3 separate regions of the Homo sapiens genome follow, and all the other regions are linked to region 2. The links come from fine-mapping of genetic effects on gene expression. A gene starts in region 2. Each other region holds a variant in brackets. All regions are shown on one strand. Distances are between the middles of the regions.

Region 1 (8,177 bases), 81 kb after region 2:
GAACGCAAAAACATTGAAATCTACATCCAGCGTTCCCGTCGTCTCTATGGCAACACACCCATGCGCCGGGCACTGCTTACTTGGAGCTTAGCAGGGCTAGAACTGGTAGCTCTGGCAGATGCCTCCTTCCATGGTCCTGAGCATGTGGTAGAACAGGTTCAAGAGCTTGATCCAGGCAGCCCTTTTCCCCCTGAGGGATTAGATCTTGTCATTCAGTGGTGTCGAATGCTCAAGTGCAATGTCAAGAGCTTTCTGGGTAAGTAGTGTTTCCTTTATTTGCAGACCCCGTGTTTGCCCGCTGAGCTCTGGGGAGCTCTCAGTGATTTCAGAGGAACTAGGTTATATTGGGAACTGTGCCGTTTTGGGTGGGTGGAGTGGGATGGGTGGGCTTCCCTTCCCTTTCTTTGTTCCTGAATTTCACCGTGAAATTGCTTGGCTAACATAAAGGGAAAGCTAACACAGTCATCTTTAAGGTTATTGTGTCTCTTGGATCTCAGTGCTATGCCCTTAACCACCTGCTCCAGGGTCACTGTCATTTTTCAGCTTGCTGTGTCAACTGCCTGCCCTTGTTCTCTCAATTGACTTTGTAAATATAGATGGGTAAAATAGTGGTGAGGAAAAAGATAGGCCCGAGAGTGCTCAGACTGCCCCTGAGTAGCCAGTGTGTACCCTTCCTCTGGTAACAGTTCGGATCAGGGACTATCCACGGTACCTGTTTGAGATCCGTGACTGGCGGCTAATGGGTCGACTTGTGGGCACCGAGCAGAGTGGTCAGCCTTGCTCCCGTCGGCGTCAGATCTTGCACTTGGGGCTTCCGTGGGGTAACGTGGCAGTGGAGAGGAACATGCCCCCACTCAAATTCTACCATGACTTTCACTGTGAGTAGAGATGAGGCAGTTGGTTTGGCTGAGGGACGTTTGTGATGGGTGAAATGGGAGGTGAGCTGAGACCCTTCTGGAGTGAAGGAGGAAGAGAGGGGTAATGTTGTGAACAAGTTATAGCCTTTGTTCCTCTACCCCAGCGGAAATATTCCAGTACACAGTGGTGTGGGGCCCATGCTGGGATCCAGCCTGGACACTAATTGGCCAGTGTGTGGACCTCTTGACCAAGCCCTCAGCTGACCCCAGCCCACCTTTGCCCTGGTGGGACAAGAGCCGTCTTCTGTTCCATGGAGACTGGCACATGGACATTGAACAGGCGAACCTGCACCAGCTGGCCACTGAGGTGAGGGGTGTCATGATACTTTTATCCTATCAGGATGGTATGGTTGAGGTCTGTATAGCACATGTGGGAAGAGAGACAGGTGCTGATTTGGGAGATGAGGATGGTTTTCTTACCTATATCTCACCAAATTCTCGGGGGTGGTCATAGGATCCATACAACACAACTGAAAATATGCACTGGGAGTGGAGCCACCTGTCTTTTCATTGGAAACCTGGTCAGTTTGTGTTCAAGGGTGACTTGGATATCAACGTGAGAACAGCCTCTAAGTGAGTGGAGTGAAGGGAGGGTCCTCCATGGGATGAGGGGCTCAGGTTGGAGGGAGGGGGAAGAGCCAAGGGGAAGTGAGTGACCAGGGCACTGAGGGCTGGGGTTCCATTGTGAGGCAGGTATGACGACTGCTGCTTCCTTCACCTGCCTGACCTCTGCATGACACTGGACCTGCAGTGGCTGTGCCATGGGAACCCCCATGATCACCATAGTGTCACTCTGCGGGCCCCAGAGTTCCTGCCTGAGGTGCCCTTGGGCCAGCTTCATGACTCCTACCGGGCCTTTCGCTCGGAGAACCTCAATCTCTCCATCAAGATGGATCTGACTCGGCACAGTGGAAGTGAGGCTTGGGCCTGGGGCAGTGGGGAGGAAGGGCTTGGGAGGACGGGCATGGATGCTGGGGACTTTAGCTTGACCCTCTGGGGAGGGGAGGGGAGGGGAGAAGGGCAAGGGAGAATCTAGGTTAGGACCTTTTTTTTTGTTTTTTGGCAGGGGAAAGGGTTGGTGTCTTAGTCCTTTTTGGCTGCTATAACAGTAATACCACAAGTTTGGTAGCTTATAAACAACAAGCGTTTATCTCTCACAGTTCTGGAGGCTTGAAAGTCGAAGATCAAAAAGAGCTGATAGATTCAGTGTCAGTGAGGGCCCATTCCTCATAGATGGTGCCTTTTTGCTGTGTCCTAATATGGTGGAAGGAGTCAGTGAGCTCCCTTGGACCACTTTTAAAAGGGCACTAATCCTATTCATGAAGGCTCCACCGTCATGATCTAGTGACCTCCCAGAGGCCCACCTCTTAACATCATTACCTTAGGGGTATTTCAGCATGAATTTTGGGGAGATGCAAACATTTAGACCATAGCAGTAGGGGAAAGCAGAGAGCTTAGATCCTTGAAAGAAGAGGGAGTTGGGGATGCTGAATGTGAGGCTAGGTGCTGTTTGGATTTTGGATTTTTAAACCTCTACAACCTGCAGCAAGGGAAGGATTTAGCTTTACCTCTGTGTTTCATCCATAACTAGGAAATGTCTGTCTTTCTCTTTGCAGCAATATCCCAGCCCCGAATTCTGCTATATAGTAGTACCCTGCGCTGGATGCAAAACTTCTGGGCAACTTGGACAAGTGTCACAAGGCCTATCTGCAGGGGAAAGCTCTTCAATAACCTGAAACCCAGCAAGAAGAAACTTGGTCAGCACTACAAGCAACTTTCCTATACAGCCCTCTTTCCCCAGCTGCAGGTAAGGCACTGATGTCCCTGCTGACATCTTCACTTTATTCTGCTTCTAGTTTTCTTGTTTCTCATATTGAGTCCCTTAATCATCCCTCTCATGCCATCCTTTGTTAATGTTATGCTCTCTTGTTGCCAGGTACATTATTGGGCCTCATTTGCCCAGCAACGGGGCATCCAGATTGAGTGCAGTCAGGGCCATGTCTTCACTCGGGGGACTCAGCGGCTTATACCTCAAGGTAAAATGAAAGACTCCTTTCATTTCTCCTATCCTGTTCCTTGTTTTTCCCTTCTCAGTTCCATTCCCCTCCTCCATCTCTGTCTTACACTATCCTCTGAACTGGTCAGCATGGTCTCTGTGTGCCTCTTTTTCTCAGCAGGCACAGTGATGCGGCGCCTTATCTCTGATTGGAGTGTTACCCAGATGGTGAGTGACCTAAGTCAGGTGACCGTTCACCTGATGGCCTCACCCACTGAAGAGAATGCTGATCACTGTCTTGATCCCTTGGTAACAAAGACCCACCTGCTGAGCTTGTCCTCCCTCACCTACCAACGGCATAGCAATCGCACAGCTGAGGAGGTACTCCCTGACACACTTTCTTTATTACCTTATTTATATTAGTAGGTATCTCAGCCTACTTGGGCTGCCATAACAAAATACCAGAGACTGGGAGGTTTATACAACAAAAATTTATTTATGAGTTTTGGCTACTGGGAAGTCCAAGATCACGGTGCCCGCATGGTTGGGTTCTGGTGAGGGCTGTCTTCCTGGCTTGCAGATGGCTGCCTTGTGTCTGTCCTCACATGGCAGAGAGGGAGAGAGAGCACAAGTGTGCACGAGTGCTCTGGTTTCTCTTATTGTAAAAGCACTAATTCTGTCATGAGTGCCCCACCCTCGTGACCTTATGTCATTACCTCCCAAAGGCCCATCTCCACATACTGTTACATTGGGGGTTAGGACTTCAACATATGAATTTGGGGGGAACACAGTAAAGTCCATAGGAGTAGGTTGCAGATTAAGTCCCTGGTAAGGTTTCTCATATATTCCAAGCATGTATGTCATTACTTTATGACAAACTCATTTGGTTTAGCTGTATCAGCATCCTTCTTTTTGAAAATACTTTTTCTTTCTCTCCTAAAAATAGTATGTTACTCTTTAGGAAATAGAGTAAAATTTTTTCCTAACACTGAAAAAAAAATTGGTACTGCCTTTCCCCCAATTAGGGAAGGATTTTAAGTTGAAATTCTCAAGTCATTTAAAATACAGTGGGGGAGGGCTGGGTGCGGTGGCTCATGCCTGTAATCCCAGCACTTTGGGAGGCCAAGGCGGATGGATCATTTGAAGTCAGGAGTTCAAGACTAGCCTGACCAACATGGTGAAACCCCCATCTCTACTAAAAATACAAAAGAATTAGCTGGGAATGGTGGTACATGACCGTAGTTCCAGCTACTTGGGAGGTTGAGGCAGGAGAATCTCTTGAACCCGGGAGGTGGAGGTTGCAGAGAGCCGAGGTCACACCAGTGCGCTCCAAGCTGGGTGACAGAGCAAGATGCTGTCTCCAAAATACAAAAAAAAAAAAAAAAAAAAAAAAACAGTGGGGGCTGGGCTCAGGTGGCTCATGCCTGTAATCCCAACACTTTGGGAGGCTGAAGCAGGTGGATTGCTTGAGCTCAGGAGTTTGAGACCAGTCTGGGCAACATGAGGAAACCCTGTCTCTACCAAAAATACAAAAAATTATCTGGGTGTGGTGGCATGTGCCTGTGGTCCCAGCTACTCGGGAGGCTGAGGTGGGAAGATGGCTGGAGTCTGGGAAATCGAGGCTGCAGTGAGCCATGACCGCATCACTGCTCTCCAGCCTGGGTGACAGAGTGAGACCCCATCTCAGAAATAAATAGGCAAAGTGTGATGGCTCATGCCTGTAATCCCAGCACTCTGGGAGGCCAGGGTGGGTGGATCCCTTGAGCTCAAGAGTTCCAGACCAGCCTGGGCAACATGGTGAAACCGTGTTTCTACAAAAAATACAAAAAAATTAGCCAGGCATGGTGGCATGCACCTGTAGTCCTAGCTATTTAGGAGGCTGAG[G/A]TAGGAGGATGGCTTGAGCCCAAGAGGCAGAGGTTGTAGTGAGCCAGGATTGCACCATTAAGGCTGGGTGCAGTGGCTCACACCTGTAATCCCTACACTTTGGGAGGCTGAGGCAGATGGATCAGTCGAGGTCAGGAGTTTGAGACCAGACTGGCCAACATGGTGAAACCCTGTCTCTACTAAAAATACAAAAATTAGGCCAGGTATAGTGGCTCACGACTGTAATCCCAGCACTTTGGGATGCCAAGGTGGGCGGATCATTTGAGGTCAGGAGTTTGAGACCAGCCTGGCCAATATGGTGAAACCCCATCTTTACTAAAAAATACAAAAATTTGCTGGGCGTGGTGGCAGGTGCCTGTAATCCGAGCTACTCGGGAGGCTGAGGCAGGAGAATCGCTTGAACCCGGGAAGTGGAGGTTGCAGCCAGCTGAGATCGCACCATTGCCTTCAGCCTGGACGACAAGAGTGAGACTCTGTTTCCAAAAAATAAATAAATAAATAAATAAAAAATAAATAAATTAGCCAGGTGTGGTAGCACATACCTGTAATCCCCAGGTACTTGGAGACTGAAGCATGAGAATCGCTTGAACCTGGGAGGCAGAGGTTGCAGTTAGCCAAGATCATGCCACTGCACTCCAGCGTGGGTGATGGAGTGAGACTCTGTCTCAAAAAAAAATCACACCACTGCACTTCAGCCTGGGAGACAGAACCAGATTCTGTCTCAAATAAATAAATAAAAATAAATAAATATATTTAAAAAATAAAATGGGCCAGCACAGTGGCTTGTGCCCGTAGTCCCAGCTACTTGGGAGACTAAGGCAGGAAGATTGCTTGAAGCCAGGAGTTCAAGACCAGTCTGGACAAAATAGACTCCATTTCTTAAAAAAAAAATTTTAGAGGAACTCTGAAAACGTTTTTTGATAAAGAATAAAATACAGTAGGTATAGTTTGAATGTAATATAATATAAAAGCCAAGACCACTTAGTTTTTCTTCTCCAGGGTCTGTCTCCCCACCACGCCCAGTGAATTTTTTTTTTTTTTTGAGACTGCGTCTCTCTCTGTCGCCTGGGCTAGAGTGCAGTGGTGTGATCTCGGCTCACTGCAACCTCCACCTGCCAGGTTCAAGCGATTCTCCTGCCTCAGCTTCCTGAGTAGCTGGGATTACCAGTGCCAGCCACCATGCCCAGCTAATTTTTTGTATTTTTAGTAGAGATGGGGTTTCACCAGGTTGGCCAGGCTGGTCCCAAACTCCTGATCTCGTGATTTGCCCACTTCGGCCTCCCAAAGTGCTGGGATTACGGGCATGAGCCATGGCATCTGGCCAACAGGTTTCTTATTCAACAAACTTTTATCACTGCCTCTGTGGCACTGGGGGCAATTTCCATGCTACCCTGAAGTCCTTTTCCTGTTTCTTAGGAGCTCTCTGCTCGTGATGGGGATCCTACCTTTCATACACATCAGCTGCACTTAGTAGATTTACGGATTTCCTGGACAACTACCAATCGAGACATTGCCTTTGGGTTATATGATGGGTACAAAAAGGCAGCTGTACTCAAACGTAATCTTTCTACTGAGGCCCTGAAGGGGTTAAAGATTGATCCACAGATGCCAGCCAAAAAGCCAAAGCGGGGTGTCCCAACTAGTGCCTCAGCCCCACCTCGTGTTAACACTCCCAGCTTCAGTGGACAACCTGATAAGGGGTCATCAGGAGGTAAGCTCGGGGAGATGAGACTTTTTGGGTTTGGGTTTAGAACATGGATATGGGCTTGGACAGGAGTTTTAAAAGGACTGAGTCATGGTGCTTCTATCTAGGTAAAGAAGTGAAACTATTATTTTTCCTTCTTAGGCCACCTAAGTCTTACATATTAAGTAACAGTGATGTTGGGGCATTAAATGGTCTGGTCCTATGGCCAGAAGAGAATCAGAAGGGGAGTGTTGGAGCCAAAACAAGATGAGTAAGGGAAAGAAGCAAAGTGGTAAATGCCATAAGAGAGAAATAAAAGAAAATGGGAGTTGGATGGGCACAGTGGCTCACTCCTGTAATTCCAGCACTTTTGGAGGCCGAGGTGGGTGGGTCACTTGAAGTGAGGAGTTCAAGACCAGCCTGGCCAACATGGCAAAACCCCATCTCTACTAAAAATAATACAAAAAAAATTAACCAGGCATGGTGGCAAGTACCTGTAATCCCAGCTACTCGGGAGGCTAAGGCACGAGATTCGCTTGAACCCAGGAGGTGGAGGTGATAGAGCAGGACTCCATCTCAAAAAAAGAATATGGGGCCGGGCGCAGTGGCTCACGCCTGTAATCCCAGTACTTTGGGAGGCTGAGGTGGGTGGGTCAGGAGATCGAGACTATCCTGGCTAACACGGTGAAACCCCATCTCTACTAAAAATACAAAAAAATTAGCCGTGCATGGTGGCGGGTGCTTGTAGTCCCAGCTACTTGGGAGGCTGAGGCAGGAGAATGGCATGAACCTGGGAGGCAGAGCTTGCAGTGAGCCTAGATCGCACCACTGCACTCCAGCCTGGGCCACAGAGCAAGTCTCTGTCTCAAAAAAAAAAAAAATGGAGGTATTGCTGACAGGAGTGAAGGGGGGAATACCATCAGGGGAGGGTTTATTGAGGAAGTAGCATTTGAGCCAGGCCTTGAAAGCCTAGTATGGTTTGAACATGTAGAAATGGGGTAGAAGGGCAATCAATGCAGAGGGAATAATCTGAGTAGGAGTGGAGTTTGAAAGCCTAGTGCGTTCAAAGCAGAGTCTTGAGTGGAAAAACCCAAACTCAAAAGTGTTTTTTCTATTCCCTCACTCGAAAACAATTGACACAGAAGACTTCTGTGACCAAATGTGTGGGAATTTTTCCCAACCAATAAGCAAGCAATTAATTCTGCAGTGGACACCAGTTGGGTGTCCTCTAATTCAGTTCAATTCTGACACTATCTACCCAGGGACAGCATCAGATTCCAAAGGTTGACGACTCAGTCTCTAAGCCCGCCCTTCTCCTTCATATGCCAGTCACAGGCTCCAGGTTGCTTTATCTGTGCTTCTCACCAACTGGCTATAAACGGGTTCCCACAACCCCCTCCTTGGGTTCAATTAATTTGCTAGAGCAGCTCACAGGACTGAAGGAAACATGTTTACTGGATTACTGTAAAGGGTATTACAAAGGATATGGATGAAGAGATGCATAGTGCGAGGTATGGGAAGTGGCGGGAAGCTTCTGTGCCCTCCCCAGGCAGGCATGCTATGCCCCAGGAACCTCTACGTGTTCAGCTATCCAGAAGCTCTCCAAACCCTGTCCTTTTGGGTTTTTAATGGAGACTTCATTATGTAGGCATGATTGATTAAACCATTGGCCATTGGTGATTAACTTAGCCTTCAG
Region 2 (8,177 bases):
CAGGCAGTGGCTGGCCGATGCCCTGAAGGAGAATGACCCTTCCAGTGTGCTTCTCTTCCTTGTAGGTTCCAAGAAGGATCTGAGTGTGAGTGTGCCAGTGGGGGGACTTCCCAGCTTGGTGAGGGAATGCCCCCCTCTGACTCTGGCCTTCCCTCAGACCCCTGCTCAGTATGCGCTGATGGAGAAAGACGCCCTCCAGGTGGCCCAGGAGATGAAGGCTGAGTACTGGGCAGTCTCATCTCTCACTGGTGAGTTGGAGGCTTTAGGGCTCTGCTGTGACACTCTTGCCTGGCTCTCCTCTCACTGCTACACCTCCAGCTGTGCCCTGTGTCCCCAGACCCAGCACTGCCCCTGAGCACCTATCTGCTCTCTGTGTCAGGTGAGAATGTCCGAGAATTCTTCTTCCGTGTGGCAGCACTGACCTTTGAGGCCAATGTGCTGGCTGAGCTGGAGAAATCGGGGGCTCGACGCATTGGGGATGTTGTCCGTGAGTGCTTGCCTGGTTGAGGGTGGCAGAGGGCACAGTGAGCCTCCAATCCCTGCTTCACATATTTTCCACCCTTCTTTAGGCATCAACAGTGATGACAGCAACCTCTACCTAACTGCCAGCAAGAAGAAGCCCACATGTTGCCCATGAGGGCTGAGGAGACTGTTCAGAGACTGCCCAGCCCTAGGGCACTGTGCCACCCTCATTCCTCCAGAGCTTGACCCCTGGACATTTGCACTGACTTTATCCAGACCAAAGAGCTGCCTCTTGGTGGCAGTATTCCCACAGAGGGGTAGCTGGGATCATGCTAGTCACTTCCTGCCCCCAGGCACCGTGCCAAAGACTGGATGCCCCCTACTCCTCAGGGGACTGTCCAGGGCGCCCAGTGGTAGTGAGGGAGAGTGTCTCTGTTCTTTTGCTCAGCCTGCTGGGCCCTTTGTGTTTGAGGATGCTTAATGATTCCAGCCTCTCACTGTGCCTTATGCATTAAAATTTCTTTGTTACGAGCACTTTGGGGCTGGAGTTCTTTGTTGGGGATGATGGATGTGGAATGGGCATGACTGTGTGGCCATTTTGGCACTAGAGTCCCCTGGGGATGCTGTGCTGGCCATCCCTGGCCCCTGGGCAGGTTCAGGTAGGCTGGGAGCTGAAACATCAGTTTGGGGGCTGCACTGGGCCCTCACTGGGTGAAGTCTGAATGGCTGGCTTTGAGAGCCCTTTCCCCTGATCCTTTCCCCACACGTGTCCTCCTACTTGGTGCTTATACCCAAATTTTCACCACTGGAGAATCTTTTTCTTTTTTTCACCCTTTTCTTGCCTTCCCTTTAAGAAGTACTTTTCCAGGCAGGGTGCGGTGGCTCGTGCCTGTAATCTCAGCACTTTGGGAGGCCAAGGCAGGCAGATCACTTGGATTCAGGAGTTCGAGACCAGCCTGGCCAACATGGTGAAACCCGCGTCACCATTAAAATCCAAAAATTAGGCCGGGCGCGGTGGCTCATGCCTGTAATCCCAGCACTTTGGGAGGCTGAGGCGGGCGGATCACGAGGTCAGGAGATAGAGACCATCCTGGCTAACATGGTGAAACTAAAAATGCAAAAAATTAGCCAGGCGTGGTGGCTGGTGCCTGTAGTCCCAGCTACTTGGGAGGCTGAGGCAGGAGAATGGCCTGAACCTGGCAGGCGGAGCTTGCAGTGAGCCGAGATGGCACCACTGCACTCCAGCCTGGGTGACAGAGCGAGACTCTGTCTCATAAAAAAAAATAAATAAAATAAAATACAAAAATTAGCCGGGCGTGGTGGTGCATGCCTGTAACTCCAGCTACTTGGGAGGATGAGGCAGGAGAATTGCTTGAACTCAGGAGTTATAACCATTAACTTTTCTTTCTTTTTTTTTTTTGTTTGTTTTTTTGGTTGTTTATGCCATTAACTTTTATAAGAAAGAAAGGTGACCAAGACCCTGGCTCCCTGTTGACATCTAACCCAGAGTTCCAGAGTAGCTGGAAGCACCTCAGACATCTGGGTCAACAAAGGAGGACTTATGGCCTCGTGTCATCCTGGGAGGCTAAGGGGGTGTCCAAGTTAGAAGGCAGATTCTGGCTCCCAGTTGCCAAGTGCTCTGTCTGTTCCATTCCTGGTTCCATTCTCACCAGGATGGTTGGTTTTTCTGCACACTTCCCTTCTCCTGGCTTCCCCTCCCTCGCAGTTCCTAGACTCTCTAGAGCTACCACGGGAAGGAGGGTCTGGGCAGCAGCCCTACCCACTCCGGACTTGGGTCTGGAGGAAAGTGAAGGTGGGGATCAGGCAGAGCAATAGTAGCAGCAGCAGAGCCCCTGGATGATGGTGGAGAAAACAAGGTGTGGACCCCATCCTTTCTCCTCCTCTTCATCCTGGCTTTGGAAGCTGGTGCCAAGAGAAATGGAGGGGTGTGGTGCATGGAATGTCGTCGATATGGCCATAACTTCTTTTCACACTCTCCTGTGATTGTTTTTTCCATTTCTGTTCCCTCGCAGCACTGGGCTCCTCACCCTTGCCTTGCCTGTTAACAGATGTGTGTGAAGCCAGCACCACAGTCCAGGTGTGGTGTTTGTGCTGCACCGGGTGTGGGAGTTCTGTGTTCCGTGTGCATGTTGTATTAGTCTGTGTGTGGTGAGTATATTCTGTGTGTGTGTGATATATGCATGCGCAGAGTGTGTATGTTGTACCTGAGGGCGTGAGGGGTGTCACTGGGATGAGGTTCCTATGAATGCAGCCTGCCCTGTTCTCCAGATTGTCTATCAGGATAAGCTTACGACTCTCTATTGGGCAGTATTGTCTCTAGAATAGGGTGTCCCCTGGGGGCCAGGGGCGGGAACGCTGCGGGGTGGCGCAGGGGCTGGGAGCCGACATCAGGTCCTCAGCCCGGAGTTAGGTCTTCGGAGAGGCCTGTGGGCGGAGAAAGGGGAAGCCCGGGCTCCACCAGAGGCGGAGGGACCTCGAAGCCCGGAAGGTGGAGGGGAAATGGCGACGCCAGGACCTCCCTGGGCTCAGGGGATCCTCCCATCTCAGCCTCCCGAGTAGCTGGGACTACAAGTGCGCACCACTAAACTAGCTAATTTTTGTATTTTTTGTAGAGATGGGGTTCGCTCTCTCGCCAGCGGGCAGAGGCGGGGCTGCGGCTGGGTTCCCAAGGGTCGGTGGGGCGGGGAGCGGGACGGGAGTGTGCGGTTTAGAGAATGGCCGGGGCGGGGCTAAGAATGGGGCTGGGGGCAAGGCTCGTTGTAACACTAAGAATTGGGGCTACGATCTGGAGGCAGGGTGAAAATCTGGGGTTTGGACTGCAAGCTGGAACCAGAGATGGGTGGTGAGAGCTGGGCCTGTAAGGTTAAGGTCTGAGATAAAGAGGGGCCTGGGAGGCGCCGGAGGCCCCGGATGAAGAACGCGGCTGACGCTGAGACCCAGCTGGGAAGACTACGCAGCCTGGAGCCGGGCTGGGGAGGCCGGCGGGGGCTGCGCCAGCATGAGGCGGGGTTAGGGGCTAGGCGGGGGCGAAGCCGAGACTGGAGTTCACGGCTGGGCCGAGGGCTCGGCCGGGCTGAGGCTCAGGGTTGGACTTCACGCAAGAGTCCTGTAGAGACGAAGACCTGGGCGGAGAGCGATGTGGGTCAGGACGACGCTCACAATTGAAAGATGGACTAAGGAAAAGACCGAGCCCAAGGCCCGCTCGTGGGATGAGAGCAGATGCCGCGGTAAGAGGGGCGGGGCAGGGGCTGGGCAGAGGGCGCGGCCCGGCTCGCAGACCCCGAGCGGCGCACGCGGGAAGCCGGCAAACCGACGAGGGAGACGGGCAAACCAACGAGAGAGGCGGGGCCCAGTGCTGGGCCGGGGCGGAGCTAGGGCCGGGGCGGAGCTAGGGCCGGGGGCGGGCTCGCGTCGAGCCGCGGGCCAATGATTGAGGACTGGGGTCCTGAGGCCCTGCTGGGTCGCCCGCGGGATGGGCGGGAAGTCTGGTTCCAGCCAGAGCTGGAACGCTCGGCTATCGGACTGGGTGGCACCGGGCGCAGGCCGCTGCCCTTGAAGCGCCGGCCTTGGCTGGAGCCCGTGGACCAGCGCCCACCCGGACGCCGGGGCGGGAGCGGGCGGTTCCATCGACCCTGAGGGTGGACCAAGGAGACTGAGGGTTCCACCCGTGGCATCACAATTACCTCCGCGGCGGCGAGGCCAGAGAGGCATTTCCAAGGAGACGCGGGCGCACTGCCCCTCCCTTGCTTCCTCCTCTTCCCTCCTTCCTCTCCTAGTTTCTTCCCTCCCTTCCCGCCCTACTCCTTCCCTCCCTTCCCACCCTACTCCTTTCGGCTGCTCTGGTGCCCACCCCCAGTGCCTCGAGGTCGAGGAGAGCTCCTCGGCCCCGCAGGACGGGGAGGATTCTGTACAGATGAGCATAACTTGTGAGTTTTGAGTTAGGCCTTTGTGCGCCGATTAACGCCTCACGGGGAAAGACGCCATAAGCCTCCCACTTTCTTTCACCCTATCACCCTCCTCATTCATTGTGTGTGTTGTCAGTCACTCCTGCTGCAGGAACTCTGGACTGCTGCTGGTCAGAGGTCTCCTCCTGTCCTCTGGAACTAAAGAGCAGATTGCTTTTCTCAGCTCTGAAGAGAGTTACTAAATTCGTCTCCCCCTTTGTCCTTCCTCCCCTCGTCTCCTTCACAAACAGAGCTGATGGGTGTCCGAGCTCTGGGGGAGCTAGTGAGTGGAGAGTAAACAGGCTCTGACCCTGCATGTGTGCTTTTTTTTTTTTTTTTTTTTTTTGAGATGGAATCTCGCTCTGTCGCCCAGGCTGGAGTGCAGTGGCGCAATATCGGCTCACTGCAAACTCCACCTCCCGGGTTCAAACAATTCTCCTGCCTCAGCCTCCTGAGTAGCTGGGATTACAGGCGCGCGCCACCACGCCCAGCTATTTTTTTTATTTTTTTTTATTTTTAGTAGAGACGGGGTTTCACCATGTTGGTCAGGCTGGTCTTGAACTCCTGACCTCGTGATCCGCCCACCTCGGCCTCCCAAAGTACTGGGATTACAGGCATGAGCCACCGCGCCTGGCCATGTGTGTCTCTTTCATGGTGGCTCCTGAAACAGCAAGGCAGAGGAGTTTTGGTTCCTCACCCTGGCTGAGGTCCCAGCGGCATGACTTTAGGGTCCAGGGTGGATAAGGGAGGCTGTGGAGTCCAGATTGAGTAAAACCAGAGGGTGAGGAATTGGTAGTGTTGGAGCTGAAAAGCAGGTGCAGTAGGAAGTGACTGTGCCTCAAAAAAACACCTGTCCTTCCCGCCGTCTCACTCTGCTGCCCACACTGGAGTGCAGTAGCACGATATCGGCTCACTGCAACCTACACTTCTGGGGTTCAAGCGATTCTCATGCCTTGGCCTCCAGAGCAGCTGGGACTACAGGTATGTGCCACCATGCCTGGCCGATTTTTGGATTTTTATTAGAGAAGGGATTTCACCATGTTGACCATGCTGGTCTCAAACTCCGGACCTCAAGTGATCCGCCCACCTCGGCCTCTCAAAATTCTGAGATTACAGGCATGAGCCACTGCACCCGGCCTGGTAGGACAGGTTTTGCATATGGAGCTGAACGTGATTTATTTTATAAGACAGAATCTCACTCTGTCGCCCAGGCTGGAGTGCTGTGGCTCTCTCAGCTCACTGCAACCTCTGCCTCGCCGGCTCACTCAAGCAGAATGTGGTTTTAAGGCTTGGCTATGGGCCGGGTGCGGTGGCTCACGCCTGTAATCCCAGCACTTTGGGAGGCTGAGGCGGGCGGATCACGAGGTCAGGAGATCAAGACCATCCTGGCTAACACGGTGAAACCCCGTCTCTACTAAAAATACATAAAATTAGCCGGGCATGGTGGTGGGCGTCTGTAGTCCCAGCTCCTCGGGAGGCTGAGGCAGGAGAATGGCGTGAACCCGGGAGGCGGAGCTTGCAGTGAGCCAAGATCCCGCCACTGCACTCCAGCCTGGGCGACACAGCCAGACTCTCTCAAAAGAAAAACAAAACAAAACAAAAAAAAAGGCTTGGCTGTGGAGCTTCACATACAGAATGACCTTTGTTTACAGGGGTGTGTCCCCAGCCAACAGTAAGTAGACAGGGCTGAAAGAGCATAGGCTATGGAACCAGGAAGACCTGGGTTTGAATCCTACTTCTACAGTCTATTAACAATGTATGTTTGGACAAATTACTTATCCTCTCTGAGTTTCTGTGTTCTCATCCATAGAATGGGGCTGTGGTGGGGATTTAGAATCAAAGGCATATATTTTAGTTGAGACAGGGTCTCACTCTGTTGCCCAGGCTGGAATGCAGTGGCGTGATCACGGCTCACTGCGGCCTCGATCTCCCTGGGCTCAGGTAATCCTCCCACCTCAGCCTCCTGAGTAGCTGGGACTACAGGTGTGCACCACTAAGCCAGCTAATTTTTGTATTTTTTGTAGAGATGGGGTTTTGCCATGTTGCCCAGGCTGGTCTCGAACTCCTGGACTTGTGATCTTCCCGCCTCAGACTCCCAAAATGTCGTTTTTTTTTTTTTTTCCTTTTTCTGGAGAACGGGGTCTCGCTATATTGCCCAGGCAGGTCTCGAACTCCTGGGCTCAAGCTATCCTCCCGCCTCTTGCCTCTCTGAGAGCTGGGATTACAGGCGTGAGCCACCGTGCCCGGCCCAGACTCCCAAAATGATGGGATTACAGATTTATGTCATTTCATTGGTGGATGTTGAAAACATGGAAGTTGATGAAGTTATCCAGGACATGCTTTTGTAGAGCCTTCTGAGGAGGTGACCAAGTCAGAACTCTTGTAATCACCAATTTAAGGCATACAACAAAACAAGAGGAGACAGCAAAGGAGACAGGGAAGAACTAAAGAGCTGGTTAGAGAAGGAAGAGAAAGATGAGGTCTGCCATGGAAGCCCAAGGAACAGTTTGCAGAAGAAGGAGATTCATTGGTCAATAGGGTCAAGTGAGGCCGGGCGCAGTGGCTCACGCCTGTAATCCCAACACTTTGGGAGGCCGAGGGCGGATCACAAGGTCAGGAGTTCGAGACCAGCCTGTCCAACATGGTGAAACCCCGTCTCTACTAAAAATACAAAAATTAGCCAGGTGTGGTGGCGTGCACCTGTAATCCCAGCTACTCAGGAGGCTGAGGCAGGAGAATTGCTTGAACCCGGGAGGCGGAGGGTGCAGTAAGCCGAGATCCCACCACTGCACTCCAGCCTGGGCGACAGAGCGAGACTCAATCTCAAAACAAAACAAACAAAAAACAAAACAAAACAAAAAACAGGGTCAAATGAGATAAGAAGCCCACTGGATTTGGCTACTGGGAAACTGCTGGTGGCCTTTGCCAAAGCTATTCAGATTGGGGGGTGGATGGCTGCCATGTTGCAGGTGGCTGGAAGAGAAGAAAGAAGTGAAGACACTGAGCTCACTGAAGGTAGGGACTGGGCCTCTTTTCTAGTGCCGAGGGAAGCCACCCAACATATGTCCTCTGAATGAGTTAATCAATTTGGATTGAAAGGGGGATATGCAGTGGTAGGAGAAACAGGATTGACAGAGTGTTTTGTTTTATGATGTCTATAGCCTGTAAGGGGGGAAAAAAGAAGCCAGTAAAGAAGGAGAAGGTGTCACTTCTGGCTGGGACCTAAAATATAGATGCTTTGGGCATGAGAAAGGAGGGACACCCTTTTCCCAGGCAAGCAAAGTTGATGAGGGTTGGAGTGTCCACAGATAATGGCGGTGAAATTATCTGCTGAGAGAAACAGTGGTTGCAGGAGTTTCCAGGAAGTGCTTAAAGTCATTCATTCATTCTTTTGTTCATTTAACAAATTTTGAGTACTTGCCGTGCTGTGGAAAACAGGAGGAGGAGCTGACCAGAGACTTATAGGAGGATGACCAAGTGCCACTGAAGGCTTGCTGAAGACCCCAAGCAATCAGTTTCCCTTCCTTAAGCAGACCTCAAGTCCAGTGCCTCAAGGGATAAAGCTAGTTGTGGGAAGGAAAGGCAAAGGGGCAGACTGTCTTGTGGCTGCTAATGGCTGAGGGAGCTGCCACCCCAGTTGGAGGTCTGCTTAGGGTCATCCTCTGTCCAGGCTCCACACACCCTGGGACAGTTTCTGGAGCTGTCCCTCCTTGCCTAGACCCTGGCTGGCTCCTATTCATCACTAACTCT
Region 3 (8,151 bases), 41 kb before region 2:
GTAAAAATAAGAAAACCTCGCTTTCTGACCTTGTTCTATTCGTTTAGTGCTGTGAATGTTTGAGGTAACTTTTTCTTAACAGTTTCTAACATACCTCACTTCATAGGAGTAATTCCTAATTTTTAAAAGGGGTACCCCTGTAATATGCATCCCACCCAGAAGCCGTCTCCAAATCCATTATTTAAGGCCAGGTGCTATGGTGATTGTAGACAGTTCTTCAATGAAACCCTGGACACAGGGTACCCGGCTGACAGGCCCTCTCCCTGGGCAGGGCTGCTGTGGGCTTACTGTGAAGTTTGAGGATAAGTGTGGTTTGCTGTCCCTCACTGGAGGCCCAAAAGGTCCTGCCACTTGCATTCCAAGGGCCATAAGTCATTGAGAAATGGCGATCTGGTTGTTTTGTTTTGTTTGAGGCGAAGTCTTGCTCTGTCGCCCAGGCTGGAGTCCAGTGGCACGATCTCGGCTCACTGCAACCTCCACTTCCCAGGTTCAAAGGATTCTCCTGTCTCAGCCTCCTGAGTAGCTGGGATTACAGGTGCCTGCCACCACGCTCAGCTAATTTTTTGTATTATTAGTAGAGATGGGGTTTCACCATGTTGGCCAGGCTGGTCTCGAACTCCCGACCTCAAGTGATACACCTGCCTCGGCCTCCCAAAGTGCTGAGATTACAGGCGTGAACCACCATGCCCAGCCAAGAAATGGGGATCTGGTTTGCTAATAACCCAACCTAAAACTTCAAACCTGCCTTCTTCCACTTCCAACACTTTGGAAATTCTGAGGGCCTCTGACAGAGGTGAAGGTGATAGGCACTGTTATCTGCAATGTAACTGGCTCCTCTTGGTGATTACAGTTTTCTTATGTTGAATTTTGGATAACTTTATTTTTTTGTCTGCAGAGGAAAAAAAAAAAACACTAAGTGATTGCAGCCAGGCACAGTGGCTCATGCCTGTAATCCCAGCACTTTGGGAGGCCAAAGCAGGTGGATCATCTGAGGTCAGGAGTTCAAGACCAACCTGACAAACACGGGGAAACCCAGTCTCTACTAACAATACAAAAATTAGCTGGGCGTGGTACCACGCGCCTGTAATTCCAGCTACTCAGGAGGGTGAGACAGGAGAATCGCTTGAACCTGGGAGGCGGAGGTTGCAGTGAGCCGAGATTATGCCACTGCACTCCAGCCTGGGCGACAGTGAGACTCCCGTCTCAGGAAAAAAAAAAAAAAAATGAATTAAGTTACCCTCCTCTTCTGTTGAGCTTGGGTTTGAGCTAAGATGTAATGGAAGGAAAAGTTGATTCTGGCTGGGTGCGGTGGCTCATGCCTGTAATCCTAGCTCTGGGTGGCTGAAGTGGATTGCTTGTGCCCAGGGGTGAGACCCTGTGTCTTCAAAAATTGTAAAAAGTTGGGTGTGTAGTCCGGGTACAGTGGCTCACGCCTGTAATCCCAGCACTTTGGGAGGCCGAGGCAGGCGGATCACCTGAGGTCGGGAGTTCAAGACCGGCCTGACCAACATGGAGAAACCTTGTCTCTATTAAAAATACAAAATTAGCTGGGCATGGTGGCGCATGCCTGTAATCCCAGCTACTCGGGAGGCTGAGGCAGGAGAGTTGCTTGAACCTCGGAGGCGGAGGTTGTGGTGAGCCGAGATCGCGCCATTGCACTCCAGCCTGGGCAACGAGTGAAACTCAGTCTCAAAAAAAAAAAAAAAAAAAAACAAAAGTTGGGTGTGATGGCACATACCTGTAGTCCCAGCTGCTTGGGAGGCTGAAGTGGTAGGATTCCTCAAGCCCGAGAGTTTACGGCTGCAGTGCCAGTATCTGGGTGACAGGAGTGAGACCCCCATCTCTAAATGAAAAAACTATTTTTTTAAAAAAAGAAAACTGAGGCCGGGTGTGGTGGCTCACACCTGTAATCCCAGCACTTTGGGAGGCTGAGGCCAGCTGGATCACCTAAGGTCAGGAGTTCGAGACCAGCCTGGCCAACATGGTGAAAACCCGTCTCTACTAAAAATACAAAAATTAGCCAGGCATGGCAGCGGGCGCCTGTAGTCCCAGCTACTCAGGAGGCTGAGGCACGAGAATCACTTGAACCTGGGAGGCAGAGGTTGCAGTGAGCCAAGATCGCGCCACTGCACTCCAGCCTGGATGACGAGAAAAAACTCCGTAAAAAAAAAAAAGAGAAAAGAAAATTGAGGCTTGGCACAGTGGCTCACCTCTGTAATCCCAGCACTTTGGGAAGTGAAGGCCAGCCAGATCACCTAAGGTCAGGAGTTTGAGACCAGCCTGGCCAACATGGTGAAATCCCGTCTCTACTAAAGATACAAAAATTAGCCAGGCATGGTGGCAGGGGCCTGTAATCCCAGCTACTCGGGAGGCTGAGGCAGGAGAATCGCTTGTGAACCCGGGAGGCAGAGGTTGCGGTGAGCTGAAATCGTGCCACTGCACTCCAGCCTGGGCAAAAAGAGTGAGACTCTGTCTCAAAAAAAAGATTATATATATATGTGTGTATATATATATATAATTATAATATCTATATGTATACATATAATATCTATATATATAATTATATAATATATATATAGATTATATATATACACATATAGATTCCACAAGATGGGGGATTCAGGGAGGGTAGAATCAGACCCTTGGCGGCAAGAGTCCGCAGGTGGCTTCCTGAATGCTGACGGAGCTAAAGCACCAGCCTTCTTTCTTGAGCACACCCTTTTCTGTAGGGTGCTTTTGTTTTTTTATTTTTTTTCAGACGGAGTCTCACTCTGTCGCCCAGGCTGGAGTGCAGTGGCGCAATCTAGGCTCACTGCAGGCTCCACCTCCTGGGTTCACACCATTCTCCTGCCTCAGCCTCCTGAGTAGCTGGGACTACAGGCGCCCGCCGCCATGCCTGGCTAATTTTTGTATTTTTAGTAGAGATGGGGTTTCACCATGTTAGCCAGGATGGGGGTGCTTTTTTTTCCTTGAGATAGTCTCTTGCTCTGTCGTTCAGGCGGGCAGTGGCACGATCTTAGCTCACTGCAACCTCCACCTCCCGGGTTCAAGTGATTCTCCTGCCTCAGCCCCATGAGAAGCTGGGACTACAGGTGTGCGCCACCATGCCCAGGTAATTTTTGTATTTTTAGTAGAGACGGGGTTTCGCCATGTTGGTCAGGCTGGTCTTGAACTCCTGATCTTGTGATCCGCTCGCCTCAACCTCCCAAAGTGCTGGGATTACAGGCGTGAGCCACTGTGCCTGGCCGAGGGTGTTCTTTTGTGAAAGTGTTTTGACTCCTTTATGCCTCATGCCACCCCTGTGAAAGGAAGCTGTCTTCTGCCTGTGTCAGATAAGATCTGCAGTCGGCCCAAAAGCGGAGCTAGACATTAGTAAAGTACAGCGCTTCCTCCAGAGTGAATGATTCCTGGGCTGAGGTAGATCCTTGGGGAGTGCAGCTCACACTTTTATTGCAGAACATGGCCTGAATTCTGCAAGTTATGACTAGCACTGAATAAGGTCCAGGTGTGCAAGGCTTGCAGAGTATGGGGTTAACAGCCCCATTGTTTGCATGCAACTCTAGGAGGCACCATCTAGACTATGTGAATGTGACCCCCGGAA[G/T]CATGCAGTGACAGTGTATTTATTTATTTAGAGACGGAGTCTCACTATGTTTCCCAGGCTGGAGTTCAGCTCACTGCAACCTCCACCTCCCAGGTTCAAGTGATTCTTCTGCCTGGGCCTCCCAAGTAGCTGGGACTACAGGTGTGCACCACCATGCCCAACTAATTTTTTTTTTTTTTTTTTGAGATGGAGTTTTGCTCATTGTTGCCCAGGCTGGAGTGCAGTGGTGCGATCTCAGCTCACTGCAGACTCTACCTCCCAGGTTCAAGCAATACTCCTGTCTCAGCCTCCCAAGTAGGTGTGATTATAGGCACCTGCCACCACGCCCAGCTAATTTTTGTATTTTTAGTAGAGACTTTTGTTTCACCATGTTGGCCAGGCTGGTGTTGAACTCCTGACCTCAGGTAATCCGCCCTCCTTAGCCTCCCAAAGTGTTGCGATTACAGGTGTGAGCCACTGTGCCCGGCTCCTTATATTTTTTTGTAGATACGGGGTGGCTCCCTTTGTTGCCCAGGGTCATCTCCAACTCAGGCTCCCAAAGTGCTGGGATTATAGGCATCAGCCACTGTGCTCGGTCAGGTGTGTAGCTGGGATTCTGGAAAGGTGTTTCAGCCTGTTGCCTGAAAGCATTTATGCTGCTGGAGCCCATGGTTGCCTCTACCAGTCTCCAGGCATCACCGTACCAAGACGGTTTATCTGGTGAAGAAGCCCAGCTCTAGTTTCTCACCTAGGCAGGAGGGCCCCATTTCTCCCTAGATAAGTAAGTCAATTTGACCTTTTTGAAAAGAAAGATTGGGCCGATGATGACCTCCCCAGCCTGGCTCACTGAGGCTTAGTCCTGTCCTGTCACCCCATAAAGGGTTTTTTTTTTTTTTATTCTCCCTGTCGCCAGGCCGGAGTGCAATGACGCGATCTTGGCTCACTGCAACCTCCGCCTCCCGGGTTCAAGTGATTCTCCTGCCTCAGCCTTCTGAGTAGTTGGGACTACAGGTGCGTGTCACCACACCAGCTAATTTTTTTTTGTATTTTTAGTAGAGACGGGGTTTCACCATGTTAGCCAGGATGGTCTTGATCTCCTGACCTCGTGATCCGTCCACCTCAACCTCCCAAAATGCTGGGATTACAGGTGTGAGTGAGCCACTTCGCCCAGCCCAAGGCCTTTTTTTTTGAGACAGGGTCTGGCTCTGCCACACAGGCTGGAGTGCAGTAGCGCAATCTCTGCTCACTTTAACCTCTGCCTCCTGGGCTCAAGCCATCCTCCCACCTCAGCCTCCTGAGTAGCTAGTCGTGTGCAGCAGAGGCTGAGTTTTTTTTTTTTTTGTTTAAACCCTCAGCCTCTGCATGGGAAAAGAAAGAACTACAGTCCTTGAACCTTCCCTTACTAATGATTCTCGTACATACAGCCTCTTCTCAGGGCTAGGCAAGACAGTAAGGCACTGTGTGCTGACCAGTTCATTTAATCTTTACAACAAATCTGGGAGGTGAGCCGCATTTCACCAGTGACGGTAATGGAGGCCCTGTGTAGCTCAGAAACTTGCCAAAAGCAAGCACAAGGACCCACACCTATTGCCACAACTAGAGGGAGCTACAATTTCTAGGGACTACTGGAGTTTAAAACAGAATCGAGGCCCTGTCCGAACCCGCGGAAGAATCACTGATAAGTCAGTCTCCTCTGTTCATGTTTCATAGGTGAAACGTGGATAATCACATGCACCCACTGAGGCCCGTTAAGAAAAGCCGATGAGAGACAGGAGAAAATCCAAGTGCCTTGAACATCTTGAAGGCCCCTTTTGCTCAACACCCAGTCCCTGGATGTGGCTGGGGTTCGGAGTTAGAAAGCATTCACTAAGCACTTACTCTGGGCCAAGAACATGCACTGCCTCATTAACTCTTCTCTAGAGCCCACAAAGCCAGTTACTGTGCTAAAAAGTATTTCACTTGACAGTTCTTTTCAATGAAATAATAATGCACGTAAAGTGCTTAGCAGTGTCGGTGCTTATTACCATTAGACCAAGAAAGCCCTGCCTAGGGTAGAAGCACTAATCTGGTGGGGCTGACCAGGGACTCCAGCCTTATGAAACATCTAGGCCATACACTTCCCGCATTTCATCGGCAGAGGGCAGTGGCAGGGACCGTCTTCCACACAAAGCCCGATGCAGTTTTCCCGGCGTCCATCAGAGGGCGAGCCAGCAGGTAAGCTGGATCCTGGGGCCAGACCCAGGCAGCGGCCCTTCTCTGACTGGTCCTTTCTTTGCCTTCAGTTTGGTTGAGCCTCCCAGGGACCTAACCAACCCAGGTAAGTCAGGCTGGAAGCAAATTAATAAATACAATTCCGGATTTATTAAAAATCAGGGCTCCCCTGCTGTGCCCTCCTGGCACTAAGGAAATAAATAACCAGAGGGGGCACAGCTAGGTAAAGGGGGAAAAAATCAGATCTCAAGACAGACTCTTTGAACTACCCTTTCTCCCTCCCCAATTCCCACCCCCTTATGGCTCTTGGGACATAGCACCTGAGCAGGCACCTCAGTCCGTGTAGAGTGTGACCGGCACCAAGGCATGTCTGCCCTACCCAAGAAGGGAGACAGGCCCTGGGGTCACTTGTTTCCAGCCCTTCATGACCCCAAGACCTGTTCCCCACAGGGGCCAGGGCTGAAGCACCAATTGGAGGCACCTGAGGGTGGTGGCTGGGGGAGGGAGGATGGGGTAACAGAACCTAGGCAGCAGAAGCAGCTGACGGGGGTCCGGCCCCCTCTCCAAGTTCAGCCAGTGCCTGACTGAGGTCATGCCCCATCGTCCTTTCCCCTCGAACCCCACCTGCACTCAGCTGAGGATCTTCCGGGGCAGTTCAACAGCAGCACGGATGAAGACTGCATCATCCCGCACATAGTTTCGCTTTCGAATGTCCTGGTGGGAGATGAACTTGGGATAACCAAAGCCCAGAGAACTCTCATCCAGGGAGCCCCGCCACGTGCCTGGCTTCTGGAAATTCTTCCAGTTTGGGTCGGGGTGGAAGGTCTCAGTGACGTGCTGTGGTTTAGCCAGCCCAGGGTCGCTCTGATCCAGCAGGGAGAAGGTGACACGGCGGGCAAAGGGCCACTCAAGGAGATTGTCAAAGGCACCAGGCAGCACACGAATGTACAGTGAGAGGTGTGTGCCCTCACCACTGCCATTGCCATTGAGGAATGCAGACACCTGCAGCTTGTAACCATACTTATGTGTGTAGAAGGCTGGGCTGAAGCACTCAAGGTTGGGCTTGGCCTTGGCCTCCTGTAGCCGCCGTCCATAGCTGCCAATCTTCCAGATGAGCACGCCATCACTGCCCACTGATAGCTCCTCCAGCTCTCGCCGAAGCTCCTGCAGCTCCTGCCGTTGCCGGCTCACCAGGGCACACATCATGGCCAGATGTGGCTTCACACTCTCCTCCACATGCCGTGCCATTGCCAGCTTAGGGCACTGTTGGCAAAGCCCCAGGCCATGGGGGAAGGGAGGAGAGTTATCAGTAGGGGGAGGTCCAGGGAGAGGAGAGGAGTGGGTACAGGGTAGCAGGCACCCAGCTCTACGTGAGGAAGACAGAGGGTGTTAGGAAGAGGCTGGAGCTGGCAGCAGAGGGAAGGACTGAGGGTTTCAGAGCAGCACAGCAGGGACCACCAAGGCCTAAGTACATCAGAAGCTGAGCCTCTGTCTAGGGCTTCAAGGGCAAAAGGGGGCTGACAGGAAAAGGGGCATCTCACCCTGTGCTTGCAGCCGGAGTCTTTGAATGGGCAGAGCACCAGGGCGGTGTTACAGCTGTCCTTCAGATGGCCTGGCAGGTCCTCCCGAGCCACAGTGCCCACACCACATTGGTTGGGGCAGGCAACAGGCAGCCTTGGGCACTGGTACTGGTGGCTCTGGGGCCACAGAAGTAGAGAGGCAGGAGTCAATATCCTGACTACCTGTCACCTACCCTGCAACCCACAGTTCAGGGAAGGCCTCACCTGGATGGTGTCAAAGACGAACTCCTTAGTGCAGTAGGTGCAGGGCTGAGTGCGCTTGGGGCACTCAGAGGTGGCATGCTGGGCCAGCAGCCGCCGCATCATGCGGGCACCACACTTATTCTCACAGTAGACACTCTCCTGGGGGCACATACCCTCATGGCTCTGGAAATGTCAGAGGTGCTGAGTTAAGAGATGCCTAGGCCATCAGGTACCCCCTCCTCCACATTCAGCCAGACCCCACCCACCTCATAGGCCTCCCCACTGAAGTCACAGCCACAAAACTCGCACTTGAGGCGCCGCTTGGGGCAGTCATGCTGCAAGTGTGCAGGTAGATCACGGCGGCTCAGCTTCATGGGGCAGCGATTAGGGCAGGGAATGACATTGAAGCTGCAGGTATTCAGGTGGCCCTGGTGGGAAGGCTGCAATTAGTGCCTGCCAAGGGAGAGGTGGTGCCAGCCCTCACATCAGAGCCTCACCTGTAGATGACGTAGTGGCCCACTCCAGCGGCAGCCCTCCTCACTGTGGATGCAGCGGATAGGCAGGCCCAATACTTGTACTTCCAGCTCCGGGTCTGGG

Evidence for each region. PIP is the estimated chance that this variant, and not a neighbour inherited with it, causes the effect.
Region 1: its variant is fine-mapped to the expression of PROCA1 in visceral fat (GTEx, PIP 0.97). The same link has a PIP of 0.9 or more in transverse colon.
Region 3: its variant is fine-mapped to the expression of PROCA1 in lung (GTEx, PIP 0.91).

The regions. Positions count from the first base shown.
Region 1 is chr17:28,626,596-28,634,772 of GRCh38, reverse strand. It overlaps BLTP2 (bridge-like lipid transfer protein family member 2), which reads left to right. Exons shown (of 39, transcript NM_014680.5): 16 at 1-256; 17 at 687-878; 18 at 1,022-1,224; 19 at 1,372-1,490; 20 at 1,611-1,831; 21 at 2,534-2,724; 22 at 2,854-2,953; 23 at 3,092-3,294; 24 at 6,214-6,508. Among named protein-coding and RNA genes, the nearest start is that of BLTP2, 14 kb to the left of the region's middle. RefSeq lists a silencer at 6,705-6,879. The variant G/A (reference allele first, on the strand shown) is at 4,798.
Region 2 is chr17:28,707,103-28,715,279 of GRCh38, reverse strand. PROCA1 (protein interacting with cyclin A1) reads left to right here and starts at 3,392. Exons shown (of 5, transcript NM_001366301.1): 1 at 3,392-3,710. The coding sequence starts at 3,620. RAB34 (RAB34, member RAS oncogene family) reads left to right here. Exons shown (of 10, transcript NM_031934.6): 7 at 4-85; 8 at 158-248; 9 at 380-487; 10 at 570-996. The coding sequence ends at 637. RefSeq lists enhancers at 2,538-2,617, 3,176-3,951, 3,952-4,727 and a silencer at 3,658-4,157.
Region 3 is chr17:28,747,848-28,755,998 of GRCh38, reverse strand. TRAF4 (TNF receptor associated factor 4) reads right to left here. Exons shown (of 7, transcript NM_004295.4): 3 at 8,052-8,151; 4 at 7,821-7,982; 5 at 7,576-7,737; 6 at 7,333-7,488; 7 at 5,043-7,054. The coding sequence ends at 6,422. It overlaps FAM222B (family with sequence similarity 222 member B), which reads left to right. Exons shown (of 3, transcript NM_001077498.3): 3 at 1-19. Among named protein-coding and RNA genes, the nearest start is that of TRAF4, 7.9 kb to the right of the region's middle. RefSeq lists an enhancer at 7,909-8,151. The variant G/T (reference allele first, on the strand shown) is at 3,602.